Regions from separate parts of the Homo sapiens genome. Here region 2 is linked to region 1. Evidence: fine-mapped expression QTL. A gene starts in region 1. The other region holds a variant in brackets. All regions are shown on one strand. Distances are from middle to middle.

What was found. PIP is the estimated chance that this variant, and not a neighbour inherited with it, causes the effect.
Region 2: its variant is fine-mapped to the expression of ZBTB44-DT in whole blood (TOPMed, PIP above 0.99). The same link has a PIP of 0.9 or more in adrenal gland, blood mononuclear cells, caudate, cerebral cortex, hippocampus and hypothalamus.

The regions. Positions count from the first base shown.
Region 1 is chr11:130,313,811-130,316,709 of GRCh38, reverse strand. ZBTB44-DT (ZBTB44 divergent transcript) reads right to left here and starts at 1,717. Exons shown (of 7, transcript NR_148980.1): 1 at 1,595-1,717. ZBTB44 (zinc finger and BTB domain containing 44) reads left to right here and starts at 1,793. Exons shown (of 8, transcript NM_001301098.2): 1 at 1,793-2,335. RefSeq lists silencers at 700-759, 1,670-2,499 and enhancers at 1,060-1,159, 1,330-1,429, 2,590-2,639.
Region 2 is chr11:130,400,193-130,403,091 of GRCh38, reverse strand. It overlaps ZBTB44-DT (ZBTB44 divergent transcript), which reads right to left. Exons shown (of 7, transcript NR_148980.1): 6 at 2,005-2,082. Among named protein-coding and RNA genes, the nearest start is that of ADAMTS8, 27 kb to the left of the region's middle. The variant A/C (reference allele first, on the strand shown) is at 1,309.

The DNA of each region.
Region 1 (2,899 bases):
TTGTACTACAAAGGAAAGCAAATTTTTGTGTCAGTGTAGTAGTTGAGGAGCTGCCACCACAGCCCCTGGAGAAGCACTTAGAAAAGACTTGCCTCATGGTCTTTTATTGACTATCCTGTTAAAGGCACTAGGAGAGGTAGATAGGATTTGACTACTTCATTTCCACCCTGATTCTTGTCCAGTTGCTTACCACCTACATACATTCTCACACATTCCTCACCAGGGCCCCAGCTCATGCCCTTTCCTGAGCCCTGCTCTGTGGCCGCCAGTCCTCTCCCAGGTAAGCATTCCGCCTTCTTTCCCTTCCCCTCTTCAAAACTTAGTGCAAAAGTTTCTGGGCCTAGTTCGCATCTTTCTGATTTTTCTCATCTCTGAAATGGGAATAATAAGAATGATAGTGGGAATAATAATAGAAACCTGTGATAAAACCTGTGAATTACAGTTGCCGTAAGGATTAGATAACATTATACATGCTTGAAAACTTGTTGGAAACTGCGAAGGACTATAAAAACAGAAGTTGTTTTTATTGCCTTTATTCCTAAAGAAGATTGCAAGTGTCAGGGTGTTCAGGTGCTTGGCTGCTTGTCTCTCAGAGTGAATTAATGTGAGATGTTGCCAAGTGTTTCAAAAGGAAAATCCACTCTACTTCAGCGGGACGTCCACCCACCTTGCACAAAACCCTCTGGAAAGAAGTCTTTCGGTTTGCAAACTGGAGGCGTGGGAAAACAGAAAGCGCCCAAGGAGCACCTGCCCGCACCCCGCCCGCCCCCAGGCACCTGGGGCGCTGCCGCCTGCAGTCCCGGGAACCCCTATGACCTCCGGGGGCGGTGTGGAGAGCGCTCGCCCGCCTGGCCAGGGGAAGCCAAGACTTAGGGCCCTAGGAGTTAACTAGGTTGATTGATTTTGCAGTTGACCAAGAACTTCAAAACCCCCCGGGCGGTACCGGTTACTTCGGGGAGGCCCGCACACTTCCTCCGGGAAGGCCAGGAAGTAAGTGATGGTGCAGTAAAAATGACAGATTCACGGTTGTGGAAGAAGTAGGGTATATTTTTGGAGCAGCTCTAGCTGTCCCTGTGTTGGAAGAACGAGAGGGACCTGGGAGTCCGTTTCTCCACTCATCTCAAGAACCGCACGTCCTGCCAGGTCACCGAGGCAAGTGCTAGAACGGAAGAGAGCAAGCACTGCGAGGAGGCCCGAGGAGCCACGCAATCCAGACACCCGCCGCATGTCGCAGTCCGCCCAGGACGGGGGCGCGGGCTCACCTGTCTGCGGGGCGGCCCTTGGCAGGCCTGTTTCCATGGGTGAACAATGGGCACCTTACCAACTAACCTCCCTCGCCGAAGAGGGGCTGAAGTGTTTCTATTTCGACCTCCCTACAAAAACTACCCGAGAAAATAGGAGTTATGTTTTTAGTTCGAAGAAAAAAATAATGCTATAAATGTGACTCCTGCGGAGAAATGCTTCTCAGGTGTGAGAGGGGAACTGGGTAAGAGGACGGCTTAGAGGAAGGACAAATGGGACAGGGCTTATGGGGCATGTGAATGTAAATCGGCACATGTGCGCACATATGCAAAAATACAGTGTCAAGACTCACGGCCTTTCTGGGTCACGCAGGCTCCACCGTCTAAGGAGACGGAGTCACCAACAGTACAAGTCCCGACGGCCAAGAGGGCCCATTTTCTGCGCTTGCGCAATCATCACGTTTCCTTCCCCGCCCCGAGCCCCGCCCCCGAGCGCGCTCCGCCCCGCCCCCTTCTCCTCCCCTTCCCCAGCCAGGCCGCCGGCGCAGAGCATTGTGGGACACAAACAAAGTGCCCCCAAACAGGCTGGAGTGAGCGGAGCGGCAACGGCGGCGGCGCCGGCCGCACGCGCGCGGCGGCGGCTCCCTCCCAACCTCCCCCTCCCCTCCCCTCAGTCCCCTTCCCCTTCCCCACCCCGCCCCGCTGGGAACACGCGAGCCGTCGCCGCGCTCCCCAAACAACCGCCTGCCCTCGGCCAACCGTCCCCAACGGTCGCCAGCGCGCGGCTCCCGGGCCCCCTCGCTCCTCCCCTCTGGCCCCTCCGAGCGCTGGGGGTGCTTCCCTCCCCGCCTCCTCGCACTCCCACTCGCGGGCACGCCGGTGGCTGTGCCGCCATGCCCCACCACAGGCTGCTCACGGGCCTAGGCGCGGCGGCCCGAGATAGGGGCCCCTGAGCCTCCCGGGGGAGGAGAGAGGCAGCGAGCCGCGCTCCGCCCCCTCCCCCCGGGCCGCCGCCGCCGCCGCCTCGCCGCCCCAGCCTGGCGGGAGAAGGAGGAGGAGCAGCAGGCCTCCGGGCCCGGCGCCGCCGCCCGCAGGTAACGGGGAGGGGAGGGCGGGCTCCGGTCGCGCGGGGGACGGCCCCTGCACGCTGCCCGTGGCTGACACCGCGTGGCCCCCACCTGGCGCCGAAGGGAGCGGAGAGCCGGGTCTGTCAGCCTAGTCCGCGCCGGGAGACACCCCACGGGATCCCCTCGGTGGCATTTAATCCTTCTGGGAGGAGACCGGCCTTGGGCCCCGCGGTCCCGGAGCAGTTACCCCGACCTTCCAGGGAGCTGCCCGTCCTTTGCACGCCCATTTGCCCAACACCCTAACCCGGAGCGGCCGGAGTGTTGCCACCTCTCACCTGGTCGAACCCGGGAGGCTCAGACCTGTTTTTTTTCCTCCTTTCCCCTTCTGCTTTTTCTCTGGTACAGAAAGAAAAAGATGGCACTTCTTTAAAAAAATATATATATATATATATACACACACACAAACACACACACACATACACACACACACACACCTCTTTTCCTTTCCTTCCTGAGGATCACTCTGCATCTAGTCGTTTTATTGCTGGCCTAATCAGAAAAAGGGGTTACCTCGAGAAATGACAGGTACGT
Region 2 (2,899 bases), 86 kb before region 1:
AATACTTCGAAGGTGGTACAGTAGCATAAAGTTAATTTCCAACCTTTCATTTTTAAGATAAGTGAATCTTTATCTGGGGTTTATCCTCTGCCCTTTATTCCTCTATCACAGATCAGAGGGTTTTGTGAATTTACAAAAGTATGCAATATTACTATTCCCAGTCCACTCTAGCAGACCACCCCTCTCCCAGGAACATATTCCAGGGGTGGTAGGACCCATCTCACTAGATCCGCATCTGTTCTCTGATGACATCCACCTGCTTCTACATCCTTTGTGCTTGAACTTTTTAACCAAGTCACCCTCTTAGTGAGGACTCTTCCTCTTTTCTGGTGTCCAAACATGTCACCCTTCCTGTTTTCCTCTGGAGTGTGCTCCGGAGTTGTTTCAAACCACCCCTCCCTCCCCACACCCCCCAAAAAACAAAACTACAAATGACAAGAACAATTGGAAAGTTCTTAAGGGATACTGGCTTTTGCTTTGTCTTGATATTTTCCACTTGTGGTCCAGGGCAGATAAAGAGGGAGGCCTTGTCAGCCCTGCGCTATGGCGTCTGCAGCGTTGAGCAGCTGCGTGTACTGGGCTTTCCTGCGTGGTGCAGACTACCCTGCCCAGGTGCCCCTGGTCCCAGGAGGGGAGGCTCGTGAACCCCGCAGCAATCTCGACTCCGTGTGCTCTGCCCCAGATCACCAGGTCCCTCCAGGAACCTGCAGCATTTCCTTTGCTGTTTGGGAATTCAAAATGGTTTCTCGAAAAATGTGAACAGGAAGGCAGAATTTATCAAAGAGGACTAGATGTAGCACGACCCTTGGATTCCCAGATTTCTGCTGCCACAGACTCATCACTTCTTTTTGCCCCTATGATGAGTTGAAGCTACATTTCGGAACACATGGCCCCAAAAAACAGGAGACGGGGTGAACATCATGAGGACGGTGATGACGTCTTCTATAAGCCTAGGTTACTGGCCCTGAGACGTGTCCTCTGCCCTCCTCCACTCCCACTCTGCCCTGTGTGATGTGGGAGGGAATTCCTCAGGTGAAGACAGGCTCGTCCCTGCCCAGAATTTCCCATCCGTAGCTGCACCGCGGTTAGACACTCAGCTTCCCCAAGCCCCGCATGTGCACCGTCAGTAAGTACCGGGACAGGAAGCAGAGGAAGGGAAGGATGCAGCCGCATTCAGTCCCAGAGAACAGCAGGCCCGGGTTACTCCTCTTTGGTGGCCGGGGCTGAAGGACAGTCTGTCTTATGGGGAAAACTCTCCTCCCCACGTTTTTCTGGGGGCCTCCGCTGAGCTCGCATTGGGAGAGCTGC[A/C]TGTGGAATGTGGGAAAGAAGAAGTCACCCATCTAAGCCAGCGTCTTCATTGGCTCAATGTTGGTGATCACTAATGCGACAAATACTGTGGTTGTATTGACCGTACATATGACAACATTCTAAACAACACAGGAGAACACAACGAGCAACAGTAAAAACTGGAGGGTCCCGCGAACGGAGTGGGTGGGCTGTGACTCCCACACTTTCCCTGCCCCTGGCCAGCCCCTCCTAAGCACCTGTGTGCTTTCCAGGTCAACACTGCAGAATGACCTGGCCAGACGTAACCAATAGGTGTGGTCCTAAACAGCTGGTACCACACTTCCCTGGCTCGTTCTTCTTCAGGTGGGGAGTTTTTCTGACCTTCCACTTTGGAAAGAGCAGGACTTGCTTAAAACTGAGTGCCGGCCAGCCCACACCCCCTGAAATAGATCAAGGGACTCATCACAGCCACTGCTCAAGTACTGGGAAGAGACATGACACCAGTGCACAAGTGCATTCTGAACCGTAATGACAAGCAGAGAGCAAGAAAGCCACCTGTCTCTTTAGAACATACTTTCCCTCAGGCCTGGGGCTCAGTAGAAAGAGACAGGAAGGTTCCGGCTGGCCTTCCAGCCCCCAGAGCTGCCCAGCCCAGCCCTGGCAGATGCGAATCGCCCCAGGAAAGGAGAGAGGAAAGAAGCCTTCCCCAGACCTCACCGTTCCTCATTCCAAACATCTTGTAAGTCCCAGGGGCACTGAGAGAGTTTGTCCGCAGCCAAACACAACTTCCTGTTTCTAAGAAAGGGAAGAAAAAAAATAGTTGAAAGGGTTTTTGGACACTGGAAATTTCAAGTTTCTGTAAACGCGAATGAATCAGACACATGTGGAATGAATTTCTCCGGAAGTAAGAAAAGATGCTGTGAGTTCCTCTTGCTGGACCAGAAAATAGGAAAAGGGTAGCTGCGGGGGAGGTGCGTCAGAGGCTGCAAGGAGAGAAGCCATGTGGACATGGGATGGAAGAGAGGGTCCCATCAGTGACAAGGTTCAACGAGGCTGCCCTGAAGCCACGTTCTGAAGCTGCTCATTACTCAGAACTGCTCCACCTCTGAAGTCCTACATCAAATCTCCTCCTCCTCAACCACAATCTCCCATCTTCCCAGATCTTTCCCATAAATGCATCCTTCCCCATGCCCTGACCGCCTCCGCACGTGTCCTTCCCCCATCCATCTTTCCTGCTCCTCTGTCTTCAGCTTTCCCTGAGCTGCTTGGACTCCACGTTCAGCGCCTCCACCTCAATCTTGCCAGTGTTCTCACTGCCCTTGCCCCACAGACTCTCTGTGCTGCTCAGCAGGCAGAGCCTCACACGGCACCCATTCCCCTCTCCCCACCTCTCACCTCTCACGTCATCCTGCTACAAGCAGATCCACACCCCGGGGGAATCCCAGCCCTGAGCACACTGGTGCCACCATAAAGTTACAGCGTTTGATGGAAACTGTCCAGCAACCCGAGCAGACCCCCTCTCAGCAATACCGATGGTTGTCCACAGAACTATTCTGCGCTTCCCATGCTCCTCCAGCTCATCCCCATGCCACGCTTCGCTGTGAGTGAACAA